Homo sapiens: one gene and its partners. The protein of the gene in region 1 interacts with the protein of each later gene in a pairwise test. Each region holds a gene or a part of one and is shown in the gene's direction. Other genes may lie near its edges.

Region 1 (7,024 bases):
GCCAAAATTATAAAGCTTTTAGAAAAAAAAGTAGGAGAATATCTTTGCAACTTGAAAGTAGATGAAGATTTCTGTATCATGACCCAGATTGGCAATGACCATATCAATGACCATAAAATTATTAAATGATAAATTCAACTCTAAGTTAAAAACTTTTATACGTTAAAAGATGCCATTTAGAAAATAAATGGGCAAGCCAGACTGAGAGGATATATTTGGAAAATATATCTGACAAAGGACTGGAATCTAGGAAATATGAAGAACTCCTATAACTCAATAATGAAAGCAAAAACAATGGGCAAAAGATTTGAAGAAATACTTCAGAAAGATAGATACATGGCCAATTAGTACATGAAAATCTTACTGGAAATTACATGAAAAGCTGCTTAATATCATTAGCTGTCTTGGAAATGGAAAAAATTAAAATCACAGTAAAGTAGCACTCCATAAACACCAGTATGGCTAAAATCAAAAAGACAAAAAATGTTAAATATTGGCCAAAATGTGAAACCACTAGAACTCTTGTTTCAATTGTTGAAGCATAAACTAGTATGACCATTTTGGAGAAAGGTCGTGCTGTTTCTTATAAAACTAAATGCATCCCAGTAAGTTACCGTAGAACCCAGCAAATTCCATGCCTAGTTATTTACCCAGTAGAAATTAAAATATATGTCCACAAAAAAATCTAGAACAATATTCTTAGCAGCTTTACTTACTGTCACCCCAAATGGGGAACAATTCAGGTGTTCATTAACAGAAAAATGACTAGACAAATGGTGATTGTATTTGCGCAAACAATAGAATACTTACTACTCAGCAATAAAAAGGAACCAGCTACTAGTACATAAAACAACAAGGTTAAATCTCGAAAGTATTTTATGCTGAGTGAAAGAAGCCTTACACAAAGATGAACTGTATGGTTCCATTTTATGAAGTTCTAGAACAGGCAAAACCAATCTATGGTAGAAAAGGCGTGGTGGTTGCCTCTAGGGCTAGGGGGTAGGCCTTGATCAGGAATGGGGATGGGGGAATTTTCCCAGGTGAGAGTAATGTTTTCTATCTTGAGAGGGTTTTTGGGTTACACAGGTGTGTGCTTTTTGGGGAATCATTGAATGGTGTGCTTCAGAGGTTTGTGCATTGCATTGGATACAAATTTTGCTTCACAAGAAGAAAAGAGAAACTATAAACAAACATGTCACGCTAGTTAATGACATGCATATTGAAGAGTTTGGGGGAAATGTTACTGATTTCTGCAACTTCGAAATGTATCAAAAAAGTAAAATGTGGATAAAGAGAGGAATAGGTGTGATAAAAAAAAAAGTACAGTGAGATGCCAATTGTAGAATCTAGATGGATTTGATATCAAAATTCTTTCAACGTTTCTGTATGTTTGGAAGTTTTTACAGTAAAACATGGGGAGAAAAGGTCTGCTGCTTGTCCATGCCGCAGGTCGCTAATCTCCTGGACAGGTCACTTTATTCGATGTCCCTCTCCAAAACTAGAAGGTTGAACCCGATGTTCTCTCATGCCCGTTCCAGACCTGACATTCTGTGGATGGAAATGAGTTCAGAGAGCACCTGAGCCCAGGGCCTTTGATCAGTTTAAACTGATCATTTGCTGCAGCTCCTTCCTTAACACTCAGTTTTTTTGTATAATGGTTAAGATTATTTACAAACTCGGAGTCAAGACATAGAAACCAGTTTTCACCTGAAAATGAAAACAGGGGATTTGTTTTAAGCAGATAATGCTTTATGCAAAGATAGTTCACCAGATCCACAAGTAGAATTCCCATCAGGCCTCACGTGGGCCTAAACCAGAAAGCAGAAGGCTGTTGAGAGGCCACGAGCACTCTTTCCCTATCTCTTACCATTGCTTCTATCTGGGCATGGCTGCTTTGTTCTTCCTCAGCAGCCAGACTACAAGGTTAGTGGAAAATGACAGCCAATGGCTACCAAGTTCATCTGTTATTTTGACAGCCACACTGCAAGTGTCTGTCATTCTTAGTACCATTCCCAAATTTTCAAAGAGATTTCATTTACGGAGCTTGGTCTAACCCAATATAGCCAGAGGGCAGGGCCATGTATATAAATTCAGCTACCAATAAAGGACTTCTGTGGGCAGCAGGGACGGGTGGTGGTGCTTGTGAGCCTTGCAGACATTCCCAAAGGTGTCTGCTTTTGTCTGAATCATCATTAGCAAGAACGTCCATTTCAAACCAGCAACATCATGAGTTCAATTAGATCATTCACACAGCAGGACCCCAGTCTGACATTCTGGAAACATACCCTGCCTTGTTTGGGGCTACCTCCTTCCAAACTGGGAAGAAAATACCGTACCTAAATTGGGGTCTGGAGAGAGTAACAATGAAGGGAGACAGGTTTATATTATATCCCCCAACAACAACGGTCTTCAAAGAACTGCCTGGTTCTGGACACTGTGGCCCTATTTTAGTTTGCGTAAGAATCACTCGGGGAGCTTGCTAAAAATGTAGCTTCCCCTCCCCTGCACCCAGAGATTCTGATGCAGCAGGGCTAGGATCAGGCCCAGGAAGCTGCATTTGTCATAGGTGCACCAAGTGATTCTGAGGCTCATGGTCCCTGGCTGAACAGTCCACGGAAAACTCCATGTTAGGAAAAATCTCCTGGTTCGCATCACACAGAGATTCCTAGGACCAAATTGTCTTTGAGACTTAGAGGTATATACTGAAAGTTATGACAGTAGAGTAACAAACAGAGAGGCAGACGTTTGGGGACCTAGGAAAAAAATCCCATAGTTCCCAAGTGTCTGCCAGCAGTGGCATCTCAGAAGGTGTAACCCTGTGTCTGGCTCCTCTGAGCACGGGCAGGAATGTCCTTAGCTCTCTGTATCCTTCTGATCCTTTATTCTTTAACTTTTAGGATGGAAAGAGATGCTGCATTTACACAGAAAAAGGCAGAAAGGGCATGCCTCAGAGTTCATCTCAGAGAAAAATACAGGCTCCCAAAGGTAAGACACTCTGGAAACATCTAATCATTTCTTAATTAATGATAAATGGGAAGTCATGGTTGATTATCCACAAAGGATCATGTTCCTGAATATGAATATATATATATATATTCAAGATATATATATATATAAAAATATATATATTCAGGATATGTATATACATATTCAGGATATATATATATTCAGGATATATATATACACATATTCAGGATATATATATATTCAGGAGATATATATATATATATACACACACACATATTCAGGATATATATATATATATGCACACACGTATATCCTAATCATAACTGAAATGTTTGATATAGTGAAAAGAGCACTGAACTAGGAGTTCATAAAAACTTGATTCCAGTTTTTAACTTAACCTCTATGAACTTCCACTGTTGCTAAAAAAAACTGGAGTTAATACCTATAGATGACATTTTAATGTAAACTTATCTAAAGGTTCTAGAACTTCTCTATGTAAATACACAACAAGGACAATAATCATAGCTCACATTGGTTGAGCTCTTTCTAGGTACCAGGTACAGTACCTTGGCATGTATTAAGTCATTTAGGTTCTATTATCATCTCTGTCTTATCATAGAGGAAACACAGGCATGAAGAAAGTAGGTACCCTCCTGCCATGGGCCAGATAGCCAGGAAAGATAGAGCCCACGGTCCTGATTTCTATGATATTCCACCTCTATTTAAAAGGAACCATCGCTTGCTGGTTTGGGGAATAATGTAGTAGTGACAGTCATCACCTAGCACCATCTTATGCATCTCAGCACTGGCTGAGGGTGACTGCTGTAGGCTGTGGTCGAGTGAGTCGTTGGTCTCCTGGTGGGAAGGGAATGCGTTGACATGTTGTGGAACACGTCTTGGAGGTACTATTCCAGGGCTTGCATCCAGTAGTGACAGAGGGCCCATCACTTTGCTACTCTGACTCATACCACCTGACTCCACCTTCACTACCTGTCTACCTGACTAAATGACTCCACCTTCACCTTCTGAGCTGGTTATTCAATTTCATATTCCAAAGATGCGCCATCCCTTAAAGAACATCTTCCATCTGGAGAAGCCAAAGTAAAAGATCCCTCCAAAGGGCATGATCCCAAGTATGAGAGCCATCTCCAAGTCTGGGTGGTCTAGAAAGTGCTGCTAAACCAATTCCTTCCATGGATCCCCAGCAGATCCCAGAAAAAGCTGATTTTAGAAACTACAAGCACTAGACAAGGGAGAAGCCACTGTCTATGCAAGGTCACTGATGAAATCACCAAAGACTTAAACATGGTAGAGGTTGATCCCTAAGGTGCCCAAGGAACCTGGGTTCTGTTCTTAATAAGGGAAGGAAAACCCACAATAAAATGTAAGCTCATTTCATTCACAACCAATGAACTTGGAAAAGAATGCCTTGCTTTTCCTACCCCCAGCCCCGTTCAGGTTTAATAACTTTTCCTCACTGTGCTTGCATTTTGGAAGAGTGAAGCACTTCTAAACACTGTCCTTTCCACTTTCATTGTCTGGTGAATTTCCTGAAACTCCCTGGATGTCATTGGCTCACTTTAGCAATGTGGTCTCGCCCTAGGCAGGAAGATTGAGTCGGATTCATGCTACTGCGCTGAAGCCCCTGGCCTCTGCTCTTGGGCCATCTGATTAAAGCATCATCAACTTGTTGGGATGAAGCAGAAATTTCACACACACACACACACACACACACACACACACACACACACACACGATTGGCTGGGTGTGCATCGTCCAGAATGTAGGGCTTTTTACAGATTTATTTTTGGCAACTGTTATTCTTCTGTAGGGATCTAGGGAGAATTGGGGTTCCGTTGTAGCTCTGTGATGCAATATCACATGGTTTTTAAAAATATCTGAGTCTCTTAATTTATGCAGCAGCAATAGAAAAAAAAATCTGAGCCTCAGTATCCTCATCTATAAAATGAGGGCTGAAGTACCTAACTTCATAGGATCTTTGTCTGAGATAATGTAATATAAAGGACCTAGTACAACGCCTGACAATAGAGCTCTTATTATTGACATTATGATCTCTGGGCACAAAAGTCTTATTTCCTGATAATAACAACCAGGGGTCTTGAGGACCGCCAGTCCTTAGGTGTGTAATCAATGCAACAATGGAGGTTCCTGAGCCTCAAGGCCCCAAGCCTTTTATCTGTTTCTCCACTAATGGTAAATCAGCAGTCTTGCTGACTTCCAGATCTTCAGGGGTGAACACCCTTAGGCTTAGCAGTAAGGTTTAAGTACTCTTCCAAGAAAAATAATTCTTAAATCTCTGTGCCAGGGTATCTTTTGAAACAAGAGCCTTTCCAACAGAAACTATGGAAAGAGGAAAAAATGATAGCCATGAAATGCACAAATCCAGGTCCTCTCTGGAGAATGATTGTGGCTATACCTGCATAGGCTACTGCTCTCTAAAGCCAGCTAGGGGGAGGGACCGACATGAAGGATGTTGATAAATAACAGTAGAGCCCACCAGTGTCTTTCATTGCATGGCTTACTGATGTTCATATAGCCCCTTTTCTACAGCTGTTTCAAATGCATAATGCATTTGAGACCCCACCTGATTTTCTCATAGACCATGAAAGAGACCATAAAGCTCATCTAATAATCTCATACCACTGCGTCATTTTACACCTGAGATAACTGCAGCCCAGGAGGGTTAAGTAGCTTTGCAATAAGCCACATCTCCTGTGACAGACTTAGGACTGGAACTCAGGCCCCACAACCATGAAAAAGAGCAGCTTGTTCACAAAAGGACTTCAACAGGGCTCCTCCTTTCAAGGCATTTGTTCTTTCTACTCTTTTTTTCTTTTTCTTTTTTTTTTTTTTTTTTTTGACACAGAGTCTCACTCTGTCACCCAGGCTGGAGTGCAGTGGCATGATCTCCCCTCACTGCAAGCTCTGCCTCCTGGGTTCACCCCATTCTCCTGCCTCAGTCTCCCGAGTAGCTGGGACTACAGGCGCCCACCACCACTCCTGGCTAATTTTTTGTATTTTTAGTAGACACGGGGTTTCACCGTGTTAACCAGGATGGTCTCGATCTCCTGACCTTGTGATCCGCCCACCTCGGCCTCCCTAAGTGCTGGGATTATAGGCGTGAGCCACTGCGCCCGGCCTCTTTCTACTCTTAATATTTTGAGCTGTTCCCCAAAATTTTAGGGCAGTTTTGAATTCCACGTGGCTTAAAAAAATGGGAGCATATTATTTCTCCTGTGTTGTCTAACGGTTTGACCCTAGATCTGCAAGTAGCTGTCTAAATTCCAAATACAATCCAAACAAACAGATAAGAATTTCACTTGAGAACATTGTACACACCATCATTCATTGCAGTTTACTTCCAGGTGGGGACCCCCTCCTCCAAGGGCGTTTTTATATTTGGTTGCATTTGTAACAATGGATTCTACACACAATGTTTCAAAACCGTGCCTATGGTATGGAAGATACTACAAATACCAATAATACAATTGCCTGCTTTTTGTAAAGCACATGGAAATTCTAATCCCGTGTAGCTAGCTATAAAAATAGCACCTAATAAAACTATATGATAAGAAAAATCGGCTACTCTGGGCAGACTGCCCTGCTCTGCAAGGAGCAGTTTAAAAACTAAAATTTAAAAGTTTAAAAAATCAGCTGGATCGTATTCCACTTAGTCCAGTTATCACCAGCTGTGGCTAACTTCCCCTACCCCAGTGCAACACTTTGCGCTTGCAAACCAGCCCCACCCTTGGGCGCCTCCTCTGCCTCCCGCGCTGTCACTTGTCGCACGTTACCCTCCCGCCCGCGTCCCCGCACTGACGAGGCTCTGGGTACAGGGACCCTTCGATGGCCCATGTGGCGAAAAAGAGGCTGCGGGGGACAGACACGTTTCCCAGGCTAACGTCTGCCCAGGCTATGCAGAACAGCCGCTCCCGTCCAAGCCAGATCCTGGCTGGAGCAAGGAGGGCGCAGCGGTCGCCAGCGCGGGCCCCGAATCCTCGACGCCGGCGCCCCCTGGTGTTCCTAGCGCCGCGGC
Region 2 (6,500 bases), on another chromosome or scaffold:
ACGCCTGGCTAATTTTTGTATTTTTAGTAGAGACAGGGCTTCACCATATTGGCCAGACTGGTCTCAGACTCCTGACCTTGTGATCCACCTGCCTCGGCCTCCCAAAGTGCTGGGATTACAGGCGTGAGCCACCACACCTGGCCATATTGTACAATTCTTGAGATCTGACTGCTAAAAAAAAAAAAAGGAGCTAGGGAAATGTGGGCCACATCAATATAATAGCTCTTATTTATTGAGCATTTAGTATGTGTCAGGCGTTGTGCTAAGCTTTTGATTTACAATAAGTCACATAATCCTTAGCTAACATTATTATCAGCACTTTACAGAAGAGGAAGTGGAGGTCAGAAAGGTCATATCCTCAGTCTCAGTCACTCAGCTGGTGAGTGGCAGAAGCAGGATTTCAACAGACGGGTGCAAAGCAGAGCCCTGCTCCTAGTCTCTGAGCTGAGTGCCGACTTAGGGAGGCAATGTTATACCGGTACTTGCGCCCATTCATCTGACGACAGTTAGAACAGTTTCTTGGATACTAGACAGGAGATGGGGAGACAAGGAGAGTTAGGATAGGGAGGTTTTTTTGTTTTTGTTTCTTTGTTTTTTCTTGAGACAGGGTCTCACTCCTTTGCCCAGGCTGGAGTGCAGTGCGCAATCTTGGCTCACTGCAGCCTCTGCCTCCTAGGTTCAAGCAATTCTCCTGCCTCAGCCTCCCGAGTAGCTGGGACTATGGGCAGGCACCACTTTGCCTGGCTAATTTATGTATTTCTTGGTAGAGGCATGATCTGCCCACCTTGGCCTCCCAAAGTCCAGGGATTACAGGCATGAGCCACCGTGCCTGGCCCAGATGGTGTGGTTTTGAGAACTGCGTTTTCATAGGAGGAATCAAAGAGATTGAGCCCAGAAAAACCTGAGAGGTTTGAGTGTCATAGAGGGGATATTCTGTACAGGGGGCAACAGTCTGTCAAGAACATTTCCTGTGTAACTGCCACTCTCTGGCAATTACACAACTGCTCCCCTCTCGCCCTGGCTCAAAATTCCAAGCCCTGCAGGCTTCTGGCCTCAGGTCTCAGAAATGCCTGTCTCACCCTTCTTCCTTTCTCCACGCTCTGCTTGTCACCCCTCTCCCGCCTGGTGGCCATCTCCTGGCAGTCTTGCTGATGGTACTTCTCCACCCCTCTGGCTGGCCTCTCTGCCATTTTCTTACTTCTATCTGTGCCTGTCTACCACCAATAGAGAAATTATCCTGAAGCACTTCTTCACTGTCACCCGTGGCTCAAAAACCACACTAGCTCTTAAGTTTTATCAGTCGCTTGGAGCCAGTCTTCTCTACCTGACCTTTTCTGCCTTCTGTCCTGCCCCATCCCTCCCATCCTCTGCCTGGTCCTCACTGTCAGGGTGTATCCCTATCTCTCAGTGCAAGAATGTCCCTGCTCCATGTCATCCTTCAAGGGGTCACCCGCCCCCACCATGGCACCCTCTCTGTGGCAGCTCTGATACTTACTATCTGTATCGCACAGTGTAACTCTTTACTCTTCTCTAATTGTATTACATGTGTCTTTTCCCCAGGGCAAAGTGGTCTCTTTAAGAATAGGCACAATTAGGCCAGGCATGATGGCTCATGCCTATAATCCCAGCACTTTGGGAAGCTGAGGTGGGAGGACTGCTTGAGCCCAGGAGTTCAAGACCATCCTGGGCAACATAGCAAGACCCCATCTTTAAAAATATAGGCACCATTTATTCAGGAACTGTTTATCACATCTCTGCTGTCTGCAGACATTATGCTGAGTGACAGTGTGGCGTAAGGCAGTATGGCCCTTGTCCTCTTGCTTACCTCCTTCCAGGGTCCCTGGAGCTTTATTTCTCACAGTGCCAGCAGAGACCTGTGTATATAGTCAGTGTCCTTTTTCCTCTGGTTGAGTGGGGGCCAAGGAGGGCCCGAGACTTGAGTCTAAGGCCTCTGTGTTCCCTGGAGCGAATGTGTTCTTTTAGGCCTGGGTCCATCTTGGCTCCAGGCAGGCCTGGCTTCGCATTGGGGGAGACTGGTCCAGATTACAGCTGGAAGCACAGCCAGCTCTTTGGAGAATGTGACCCAAATATCACCCCTTGTTGAAAAATAAGGTAACAACAGCTGTAGCATTTAGAATAGAAAATAAAAAGATAATATCCAGCATTTTCCCAGTCTCTAGCAGTGACTCTTATTTTCGAGTATTTATCCATTCTCAAGTTTTTGCTTTGGACTATTTAATTTTGTTTTTTGTTTTGTTTTGTTTGCTGAGATGGAGTCTTGCTCTGTTGCCCAGGCTGGAGTGCAGTGGTGTGATCTCGGCTCACTGCAACCTCCGCCACCCAGGTTCAAGCGATTCTCCCATCTCAGCCTCCCAAGTAGCTGGGATTACAGGCATGCACCACCATGCCTGGCTAATTTTTGTATTTTTAGTAGAGACAGGGTTTCACCATGTTGGCCAGGCTGGTCTCGAACTCCTGGCCTCAAGTGATCTGCCTGCCTGGGGCTCCCAAAGTGCTGGGATTACAGGTGTGAGCCACTGCGCCCAGCCTGCCTTGGAGTATTTGAATGTGGGGAAGTTCAAAGGATTGAATGATGGAGCCTTGTTGAATGCTATAGTAGTAATAATAGTGATGACGGTTGACTCAGGAAAAGGTGAGAGTGCAGTTTCCCTGCTCTCTTCGTTGTTCCTCTGTGTTTCCTGCTTACTGCTTCCTCCAGCCTGTGAGCGCAGCCTCCCCTACAGTGGTTTGCCTGACCTCTCTTGAAGCAGGTTGCTTTTCTAGCTCATGGGTAAATATTGACCTATTTGGGTTTCAAATGCCTGCCCCTCGAAACTCATGCAGGGCTAGAAAAACATGCTGGGAGAACATCTCTTGAGAATAAGAATTGCTTTTGGTTAGGCTGTATCGTAATTGGCCCACTCACTGATTCCTTGCTTGCAATGGTCAGCACTGTGCTGGCCTCCCGGTGGGATGGTGGTGGACAAAGGCAGGGCACTGCTCCCTGCCCTCCCTCTGGGAGTTTGTGGTCCAGCTGGGGAGATAGGACTCATACAGTGGGAATTCTTGGAGGCTGTATACCAAGCAGCTGCAAGGATCCTGAAGGAGGATTCTTGGCTGAGTGGGAGGTAGCCCTCTGTGACCACCAGATCTCTTCTAACACTTAAGTTTTCTGGTTTTAAGTGGAATTCAGTCAAGTGCCAAAATGTCTGTTGTAGACAATGGGTGACGTGGGCTGGCAGGAAAAGAAGCTTGCCCTTCTTGTAAGGAGGGGAAGGGAACAGGGATGGGCTGTGGGGAAGTAGGCTAAGAGGAAGGAGTTTCTGTGGTTTGCTAATCCACTGGTATTCATCTCCCTGAAATGTCCCTGCTCCTAGGCTTCTGGCTTATACCAGGGCCTCCTGCCTGGTGTCTCTCTCTGTTACGTGCACCCAAAGCCCAGTGCCTTTCTTGCACATGACCCAGACTTTCTCTCTCCCCTGTCATTTCAACCTTCCCCAGCTTGGATCCAAGACCTCCCTTCCCAGTCCTCTGAAATGAGCTGGTGTTTTCTGTTAGGCAAAGCTGCCCCCCAGGCTGGGAAATCCAAGAGTTAGTCTCATCTCTGTAAGTTGGACCCCAGTGAGGACCCCAGCTGAGTGGAAGGCTGGAGGCCAAAAACCGGTACCACTGAGGTTCCCAGACGGAGAGGGAAGTTGGAGCAGTGATATAGGGAGCAGGATCAGGCCAGGAGGCAGAACTGGCCTGACCAGTCAGAGGCCCAAAGAGGAAGATCTGAGCTTCTCAGTTTGGGGATAGAGGGGTTAGGCAGAGACTATGATGTGTGCTGCTTCAAAATTACCTTTCTAGCCTGTAGGGTAGGTCTCCTCCCTGTGTGTTCCAGCCAGGTAGCTTGGTTACCCATTCTTTGCTGCCTTCTTAGGCCAGTGGGAAACCTTAGGGCAGCTGTGCATTGATTGGGTAGACGCCATTCTGGAGCAGGTGAGAAAAGAATCAGCTTTGTGGGAGGGTGGGGTCCTGGGAAGATCCCACCTTGGGACAGCTTAGAGGAAGCTGAGGTGCTGGAAGCCGGGACTTACCTAGGTCCTAGGCCCTGCCTTGACGTGCAAGGGGAGGAGCCTGTGAGACTTAAGGTGTGCCGCACTCACCCCGAAGGCCAGACCTTCACTCCGCACACATCATACCCTTACACGAAGGATGCTGTTACTCTCATGCTGTACCCACCTACAGGGGGAGAAGGAGGCTTCTAGATCTCAGGGGCAGATGAGGGCCAGGTGGGGGCCTCATGCAGCCCTGACCTCGGGCTTGGTGTCCAGGCAGGAATAGAGTTGGAGCGGTGCCAGCAGCAGGCGAACGAGGTGACGGAAATTATGCGTAACAACTTCGGCAAGGTCCTGGAGCGTGGTGTGAAGCTGGCCGAACTGCAGCAGCGTTCAGACCAACTCCTGGATATGGTGTGAGGCCTGGGGGAGCATGGAGGGGAGGGGAGAGGATTGGGAAAGTCTCTCTTGGGCTGTATTCAGGATCTCCAGTTCCTTGGTGGGGTTGAGGCCTTCTTGAGGGCCAGTGTGGGGCCTCTGGGTTTCCTCAGGCACCCATAGCCTAGACATGCAACAGATAGACCCCACAAGATAAGAAGGCCTTGGTTTGAAGCTGTGGACCTTCTTAAAGGTAGAAAACTGGTATCGTTTTTTGTTTCTTTTTTACTTTGAGACAGAGTCTCACTCTGTCGCCCAGGCTAGTACAGTGGCACAATCATATTTGCTGCAGCCTCTACCTCCCAGGCTTAAGTGATCCTCCTGCCTCAGCCTCCTGAAGAGCTAGGACTACAAGCCTGCACCACCATGCCTGTCTAATTTTTGATTTTTTGTAGAGATGAGGTCTCACCATGTTGCCCAGGCTGGTCTTGAACTCCTGGATCCAAGAGATCCTCCCACCTTGGCTTTCCAATGTGCTGGGATTACAGGCATGAGCCACTGTGTCCAGCCTGAGTACTGGCATTGTTAACTGAGGGTGAGACACTAGGGCTGAAAGTCAAGGGCCACACCGGTGTTTGAGATGAGTCAGGCTGGGAGGGTTCCACGGCAGGTGGTATAGAAAGAGAGCAGACAAGGCCGGGCGCGGTGTCTCACGCCTGTAATCCCAACACTTTGGGAGGCCGAGGTGGGCAGATCACAAGGTCAGGAGTTCAAGACTATCCTAGCCAGTATGGTGAAACCCCATCTCAACTAAAAATACAAAAATTAGCCGGGCGCAGTGGTGTGCACCTGTAGTCCCAGCTACTAGGGAGGCTGAGACAGGAGAATTGCTTGAACCCGGGAGGCAGAGGTTGCAGTGAGCTGAGATTGTGCCACTGTACTCCAGCCTGGGTGACAGGGAGAGACTCCTTCTCAAAAAAAAAAAAAAAAGAAAGAAAGTAGACAAGATGGGGAGGATGCAGGAGGAGACTAAGCCTTACTGAGATGGGGTTGGGAGGAGCTGGCTCCCAGGCCAAGAGGGTGCCAGCTAACTCCCACTTTGTGTCTGGGGGTATCCGCAGAGCTCAACCTTCAACAAGACTACACAGAACCTGGCCCAGAAGAAGTGCTGGGAGAACATCCGTTACCGGATCTGCGTGGGGCTGGTGGTGGTTGGTGTCCTGCTCATCATCCTGATTGTGCTGCTGGTCGTCTTTCTCCCTCAGAGCAGTGACAGCAGTAGTGCCCCACGGACCCAGGATGCAGGCATTGCCTCAGGGCCTGGGAACTGACCCAGCTGGTCCTGAAGGAGAAGCCAAATGGCTGCACTGGCCGATTCTGGTCTCCAGAGGACCTTGGTGTTTGCTCTCCCTTGACCCACCCCAGTGAGTGCCAAAGGGCAGCCCCAACATGTGCACCCCTGCATTTCCTGTCATGCCACAGACTGGCCCTTGAGGGCAGCCTGCTGTACTGGCCATGCTGGGCCAGCCCCACCTGGAGCTCAGTAAAAACTGCTGTTTGATTAAAAGCTGGTATCTGTGTGTGAAGGTCCCCAGGTTGGTTAATCCCATCTGTCTCTACCCCTAGGGCTGCTTAAAAAGCCCATCACCCAAAGGACTCCACCCCTGGGAGATGGCTCCTTCCTCTCCCTTCCCTACTTGATCCAGCCCGACACAGACAGGGAGTGTGGATGCAAGAACACAATGGCCCCCAAAGCAGACCCTTGAACCAGTCCTCCCCATCTGAGCCTGTTTCTCTGAGAATGAAATCTATTATTTTTCTGTCATCTTGGGGATGCTTAGAGGACCAATGAGACTGTAGATGCGATGACAAAGAAGAAAGCACTTCACCAATTTTTTTTTTTTTTTTTTGAGACAGAGTTTTTGCTCTGTTGCTCAGGCTGGAGTGCAATGGCACTATCTCAGCTCACTGCAAACTCCACCTCCTGGGTTCAAGCAATTCTCCTGCCTCAGCCTCCCAAGTAGCTGGGATTACAGGTGCCCACCATCACACCTGGCTAATTTTTGTATTTTTAGTAGAGAC
Region 3 (7,267 bases), on another chromosome or scaffold:
CTCCATCAGGGTTCTCTGCCCCAATTCAGGAAAGCCTGAATGATTCTGGAAAATTCATCCAAGCTGTGGGCGAGCTGATGGTGACTAGATGGTCAGGACCAGTCTGCTGTCTGAGTCCCCTCCTACCCCAAACTCCATCTTCCTGGTGGCCCTCCTGGAGGGAATGAAGTCACTGTTTCCCCTAGCCAGGCTTGTGGGTGGGAAATCCCTGCTGGCCCCAGAGGAATGGTCCATCCCGCCTCAGCCCCTCTGCCCTGCACTTAGCAGAAGCTTCTGGCCAGTGATAGCCTCAGCCACACCCAAGGTCTGGACCCTCAGCCAACATCCGAGGCTCCGTCCACTCTCCTCCGGATGAAGCCCAAGGCTCTCCCACCGGGAGACGGGGCCCAGACAGTCCTGGGAACAGCCAGCTCTGGCTGGAACGTGGGTCACCCAGGCACGTCAGGAATGAGGCACATCTGGAAAAGCCTTTGCCGAGACCATTGCTGTCAGCAGGGCCAGGCAGTGCCCAGCTTCAGTGGCCTCAAGCCCCGCCCAGGGTTCAGAAGTGGGGGTGGGGGCTGCCCCCTTACTAGCTTGGCTCGGGCCCGAGTCCATGGGAGGACCCAGGAGCCAGCAGAGGGCGAGGGAACAGCACCTGCTAAGTCAGGAAGTCCTGGAAGAGAGCTGGGCTGCACACAGTACCTGCCCTGGAGCCCAGCCTCCTAGGGCTCACTGGGACCACAGGGGTGGCTCTGGCTGCCCTCAGCTCCTCTGTTGCCCACTCTTAGCCCGGTGCTTCCATTCCCACCCCACCACCCTAATTATACAGGGTTGTTGGAGGCTGTCCCCTCCCTCCCTCCCCACCCCCAACCCATCCTGGCACCTCTCTGGGCCTGCAGCCCCCAGATTTTGTACTGGGATTTCTGTCTGGTAACCAGGTCATTGGGGGCCCTTCCTGACAGGTGTGCAGAGAACTGCATTTGGGCTCTGGGATGGGGGCATCCTGAGTTTTAGTGCCAGCTCTGCCTTTCCTTGGCAAGTCACTTACAATCTGAGCCTTTCGGGGTTGCAGGAAACAGGCCCCAGCTGGACACTGTGTCCTTTCTTCCTTTCTTCCTTCTCTGGTTGGCCTGGATTTGTGGCAGATCAGGGAAAAGGAGGCGGAGGGGTTGGAGACGTCCCTGGGCCTGGGGCTCCAGCGGCAAGCCTTTCCCCTTTTTAGCCACATGGCCGGGTAACAGCCACAGGGCCCCTCGGAGGTGGTGGGCACGTGAGCTCTGTATTGGCATTCCTGGCCGTGCCTGCATTCTGGTGGCGCCTCCTGGCGACAGCCATGCCTTCCTCCAAAAGAATGGCACCATAATGGTGGTATTAAAGGCAGAGGCCACACTCACAAGGGGGAGAGGTTGGGAGATGCAAGGGGTGGTGGAGTGACACCCTGAGGACCCGCATAGCCTCCTGAGATTGGTGGGCACCTACTTGCCTGGACAAAAGTGCTTTGCCTGACCACTTCCCCCTGGTCCCCCTGGCCTCCTGCCCCAATGCAGAACAAGGGCTTCTGCTGAGTGCACACACACACACACACACACACACACACACACACACACACACACTCTGCAATACCTCGATCATCAGCCACCGTGTCCTCACCTAACCTGCGGGCCCTCACACCAAGATGGAAACTGCATGTGAACAGGAGCTGGTCTGTCTGGCTCGTGGCTGTCTCCCCTGTACACAGAGCAATGTCTGGCATGTGACACACACTAAACATTTATCCAACTATATGTTGGATAAATTAGTAAGTTCCAGATGACTCTCACCCACATGGGCCCCCTGGAAAATCATGGGTCCTCGGCTGCACAGATGCTGACCCAGCCACGGACACCATCATGGACACACGGGACATGCCTGGGTCCATGCAGGCCCGTTTTCCTGTCTCTGCCACTCTGCATGGCCACACTGGCCTGAGTTCAGTGGCTCCTTGCGGCCTGGTGCCTGCTCTGCCCCTGCTTCTTTCCTCAAGTCTTCTTGGCTGGGTCCCAGCACCCGACAGCCTCAGAACATAGCAGGGCAGGGACAGGTGAGGGGAGGAGGAGGTGTGTATGTCCCTCAGTAGACATGGTCTACGGGAGATGCCCAGGAGCCTGTGGCCTGAAGGGAAATGGCCATGTTCCAGAGGACCCTGGTCTAAGGGGTGCCACCCCTGCCCTCAGGAGCCAGGTCTGCAGGAGAAACAGTTTGCCCTCCAAAACTTCAAGGTGAGGGGATCCTAGCCCTGCAGAGAGAGCTCTGGTTGGACGCCCCTGAAACTGACCAGAGAGCTCCTCATGTGGGTCAGTGTCCCTGCCAGGGCATGGGGCCAGGGGCCAGGGGCCAGGGGCATGAGGGAGCCTCCCAGAGACTGGAATGCTGAGCCAGGGCTCCTCAGAGGAAAGGATGTAGAGGAGGGCCCAGGAAGTAGCCCAGTGGGGCCAGTTTCCTCTCCTGGACAGCTAAGAAAGTACTTATGACCTTCGGCCACCTGGGCTGTCTGAGCAGGCAGGGCCTGCTGGCCACCACCGTCCTGTACAGGCACTTAGGGGAATGAATCTTCCCCACCTGCAGCCCCAGCAAACACACACCAGGCTGGTCCCTGGCAATTCACCCCAAGAGCCAGGCCACAGCTGGGCAGAGGGGTGGCCAGTAACAGCTGGTGTCATTCTCTGCAGGATAGCCCCTGGACAAGAGGCATAAGACCCACTCATCCTTGCCCTGCCCCAGGCACACTTAGAAAAGTCCTCTCACCGGGCCTCAGTTTCCCACCTATAAATGGGAAGATGCCAACACGCCCGAGTGGGACTGTGGTGGGGCAGGCAGGAGGTGGGAGGAGAGCCCAGATCATCCCAGGCCTTCCCTAGGGGACGCAGGGGGACCCTCCCTTCTGGGCCTGGTTCTTCCAGCACGTTCCATGCAGCAGGCAAGAGGGCCAGGCCCAGGGGTTCCTGACAGCTTGCTGGCCCTGGAGTCCAGATTCTTGTTTGTTGGCTGGCGCTAGGCCTCTGGATTGGAGATGCCCGGGGCACAGGCGGCCCACGGGGATCTGCAGCAGGGCCTCGGCCCCTCCCTCTGCAGGGGCTCGTCTGGTCCCTCCCGCTCTCTGCCTCTCCTCATTTATCTCTCCCTTTCTGCTTCTTGGCTCTGGGTCCAGTCCTATCTCCCCTGTTTCAGTTTGTCTTTTCCTAGCCCTTTGCGCTCTCTCTGTCTCTCTCAGCCCTGCTTGTCTCACTGTCTCTGGCTGGGGGATCTGTCTCTTTCACTTCCACTTTTGCTCTATTTCCCTGCTACTGTCTTTCCTTTCTCCTTGTCTGTCTCTTCTCCTCCCCTCAGCCAGCATCTGTCTGTCTCTGCCTTTCTCTCCTGCTCCCTCCCTCCCTCCTCTCCAGCACCTTCCAATGCCAGGTGGGGCTGCCATTCCTTCCACCTTCCCAGTGACCCGCCAGTGTGACTGCCTTGAGAGGAAAGTCCTAAACTGTCCCTATCTTCACCAGCCTGCCCTCAAATCATTGGTTCAAATCGCTGTCGAGAAGTTTGGGAGCTCCCAGGGCGGGGGCTTTCTAACAGCTCTGCCTAGCTCGGGCCTGCCCTCAACCGCAGCATGCAGGGCAGCCACAGACAACCTCTCTGCAACTTCTGATGCCTCCGTGCCCCCATCCACAGAGCCCTGGCTCTGGGGGACTGGGGACTCTGGGACATCCCTAACATGGCATGCAGTGGCGGTGCGGGAGGACTTGACTGCCCCTCTGGAGCCCTGGGCCCGGGGACTCCAGGCCAGTGCCTCTCTGGGTCGGGATGGGGATGTCAGGCCAGCAGGATCATGGTACCTGCCTCCAGGGAGGGCAACGTCCACCCACTGAGTCCAGCCCGCCCACCCCACCCACTCCGGAGCACCTGGCTCTGCCCTCAGGAACTCCCTGAGCTTTGCACACAGGGCCGAGACACCTGGATTTCTCTGGTTCCCTGAGTGGGGCCAGCTTGGAAGAATTTCCCAAAGCCTATTAGAGCAACGGCTGCCTCCTGCCTGCCTCCTTGGGCTGGGCAGGGCTGAGGGCGGAGGGAGAGAGAGAGAGAGGGAGGGGGAGAGGAGGAAGGAAAAAGTTGGCAGGCCGACAGCACAGCCGTGTCTGCATCCATCCAGAGGAGGTCTGTGTGGTGTGGGGCGGGCCAGGAGCGAAGAGAGGCCTTCCTCCCTTTGTGCTCCCCCCGCCCCCCGGCCCTATAAATAGGCCCAGCCCAGGCTGTGGCTCAGCTCTCAGAGGGAATTGAGCACCCGGCAGCGGTCTCAGGCCAAGCCCCCTGCCAGCATGGCCAGCGAGTTCAAGAAGAAGCTCTTCTGGAGGGCAGTGGTGGCCGAGTTCCTGGCCACGACCCTCTTTGTCTTCATCAGCATCGGTTCTGCCCTGGGCTTCAAATACCCGGTGGGGAACAACCAGACGGCGGTCCAGGACAACGTGAAGGTGTCGCTGGCCTTCGGGCTGAGCATCGCCACGCTGGCGCAGAGTGTGGGCCACATCAGCGGCGCCCACCTCAACCCGGCTGTCACACTGGGGCTGCTGCTCAGCTGCCAGATCAGCATCTTCCGTGCCCTCATGTACATCATCGCCCAGTGCGTGGGGGCCATCGTCGCCACCGCCATCCTCTCAGGCATCACCTCCTCCCTGACTGGGAACTCGCTTGGCCGCAATGACGTGAGTGGGGTGTCCCTGGGCTTGGGGGGGTTCTAGAATGATGCTGAAAGGCACTGGTTCCATCCTCTGCCCATTGTGCAGATGGGGACACTGAGGAACGGAGAGGACAAGAGGTTGCTGGAGGTCACGTAGAGAGCTGGGGGGAAGAGCTGGGGCTGGAACTCAGCTATGCATGCCTCCCAAAGCCTGTTTTCTGCCAGGCACTGTGGGAAGCTGAGATCCAGAGAATAATGGTCTTGCCAATGTCCCCTGCAGGGCATCTATTATGGGGAATAAGCTTGGCCAGCAGTTCCTCGCCCCTTGGCTGTAGCTTTTTGGCCCTTCTCAGTCCTGCCTGTGCCGCCAGCTCCCTCCTCCTGCAGCCCTGCACCCTGGGGAAACTTTGCCCGCTGTCCCCAGCCACCCTGAACCAAATGCCCAGCCTGTCTGCAGCTGGCTCTGCAAGTGTGTGAGCAGGACTCCCTCAGGGAGCCCCCCATATTCACACTAGTTTCCAAATAAACCACCTCTAGGAATCAAGAGAAAGGCCCTCTTCCACTCTTTTGCCCCTGAGATTAGACAAAGATAAGGGAGTGAAAACACTCTCTGGGGCTGTTTGAAGGCAGTTTTCCTGGATTACAGTATGGGCTGGGGGGCAAGCGCTGGGCTCCATGGTCTCTAGGCACTGAGAGGTGTGGCGTGTGTGTGCATGTGCGTGTGCGTGTGTGTGTGTGAAGGTGTGTATGTGTGCATGTGTTTGCCAGCATGAGTCTCTGTGCTTGTGTCAACTGTGTGCATGTTTGTGCTGCTGTGTAAGGGTGTGTGGGGGTGAGTTTGCAACACGTGCCCATGGCTCCTGGCTTGAATGGGGTCTGGACTGGGGTCACTAATGACAAGCAGATGCTGGTGACTGGGTGGCAGCTGTGGAAAAGAATGTCTCCTGGGCTGCTTAGCATGGCAAATTGGCCCTGGTGGCAGCTGCCTGCTGTCCCAGACACGGCCTTTCCCAGCTCCTCAGACAAGTGCAAACTCAGGCCGGGCTTGGGCCACAGCAGGGGAGGATTTGGCCTGAGAGACTGGGGAAGGCTTGGAGGATGTCTCTGAGGGCCCAAGGGACAGGTGAGCAGGCCTGGGGGTGCCCTTACAGGGAGGGAGAGAAGCCAAGGAGCAGAGAGGAGGACTCGTCTAGAGAGATGAGGCTGGCGGGGCTGTGGGCAGGGCATGTGGGTGTGGGGACGGTGTGGGCCATCTCTGAGGGCGCCTCAGAGATGGCAGATAGTGATTACAGCAGCTGTCCTCTCGCTTCCCAGCCAAAGTTCAGATCCTGCGGCTGGCAGCCCAGGAGAGGCTAGGTGAAGGTCTGGTGCAGAGGGCAGCTGGCTCAGCCTGGCCATGGGGGGCTTAGCACTTCTGTGTCACGGTGACACCTCACCCAACCTCCTCTGCAGCCAACCTCTGCTAGGCCCAAGATTGAAGATTAGCTCCGTGGGCTGGAGTTTAGACTTTAGCCAGTTTAGACGTGGCCGCGGGGGATGTACGGGACAGAGCTCAGGCAGGCCACATCAAGCTCTGCCCCCCCAGGCCTCAGTTGCCAGTGGGTGCAGAGCTTGTGGCCTCAGGGAGTTCTGCTGGGTAGGGTCAAGCTCACACTGAAGCTTGGCTGGGTATGATGGGCTGGGGGAGCGTCCCTGTAGGGGAGTGGATGTGATTTCCAGGCTTTCTGGCCCCGTCTCTTCCCTCCCATCTCACAGGGCGGAGCCTCTGCACCTGCTGGCGAAGGCTTCACCCTCTAGTATGCGCATCCGAGGCAGAGGCGGGAGGGTGGGCCCCTTCTGTGCCATCTGGAACAGAGGCCACACCAGCCTCCCGTGCCCCATTCCCTCCCTGGCCTTCATTTTTTATAGTCACCCCAATACTTGGGCTGGGCGTGTTGCAAATGGGAGAGAAAGAGGAGCAGCCTAGTGTGGGGTCCGGCCCTGGGCTGAGAGGCAGACACCTGGGTTCAAGACGTGTCCACTGCTAACTTGTTGAGCTTCTTTGGAGCTGCGGACCCTGACCCTCGAGAGGGAACTCAGGTCTTGTGACCTCACAGCCACACCCAGACAGCCAGCTCACTTCATTGCTTTGAGCTTATCACCCATCCCACGAAAGCTGGCTAAGAGCAGCCCAGCAGGGGCAGTGCTGAACATAAGGGCGCTTAGCATGATGGTGGGGGCTCAGGCGCTGTCCTGTCCCAACAGTGGAAGGGTGGGGTTCAGGACCTCAACTCTGGGCCTAGAAATAGAGAAGGTACCCCTCTAAGGGCTCCCGTCAGACACTGGCCCTGGAACTGGAGGGGCCTCAGGGGTGGCCTGGATGCCTCAAGAGGAGCAGGGAACAGTCTGGGCAGCAGGTGACACACTCTCTTTCATGACCTGGGGTAGGCTCCTGCAGCCTCTCTGGCCCTGAGCCCCAGCCCAGTCAAAACCTGGGTGGGGCAAGTGGTTGGCATGGAGATTTCCAAGGAAAACAGAGAAAGATGTGGCAGGAAGTGGTTGGGGTGAGTCAGGGGGTGTCCCTTCGGGACATGCTGGGGACAACTT

What was found. Proteins that work in one complex are often made in the same cells at the same time.
Region 2: the proteins of CPLX4 (region 1) and VAMP5 interact in binary tests that used the Homo sapiens proteins (3 or more experiments, as listed by UniProt).
Region 3: the proteins of CPLX4 (region 1) and AQP1 interact in binary tests that used the Homo sapiens proteins (3 or more experiments, as listed by UniProt).

Annotation. Positions count from the first base shown.
Region 1 is NC_000018.10:59,308,646-59,315,669, reverse strand, and holds part of CPLX4 (complexin-4), read left to right. Parts: intron 1-2,897; coding exon 2,898-2,985; intron 2,986-7,024.
Region 2 is NC_000002.12:85,587,409-85,593,908, forward strand, and holds the end of VAMP5 (vesicle-associated membrane protein 5), read left to right. Parts: intron 1-4,316; coding exon 4,317-4,454; intron 4,455-5,539; coding exon 5,540-5,749; 3' UTR 5,750-5,998; downstream 5,999-6,500. UniProt on the Homo sapiens protein: May participate in trafficking events that are associated with myogenesis, such as myoblast fusion and/or GLUT4 trafficking.
Region 3 is NC_000007.14:30,907,588-30,914,854, forward strand, and holds the start of AQP1 (aquaporin-1), read left to right. Parts: upstream 1-4,265; 5' UTR 4,266-4,322; coding exon 4,323-4,706; intron 4,707-7,267. UniProt on the Homo sapiens protein: Forms a water channel that facilitates the transport of water across cell membranes, playing a crucial role in water homeostasis in various tissues.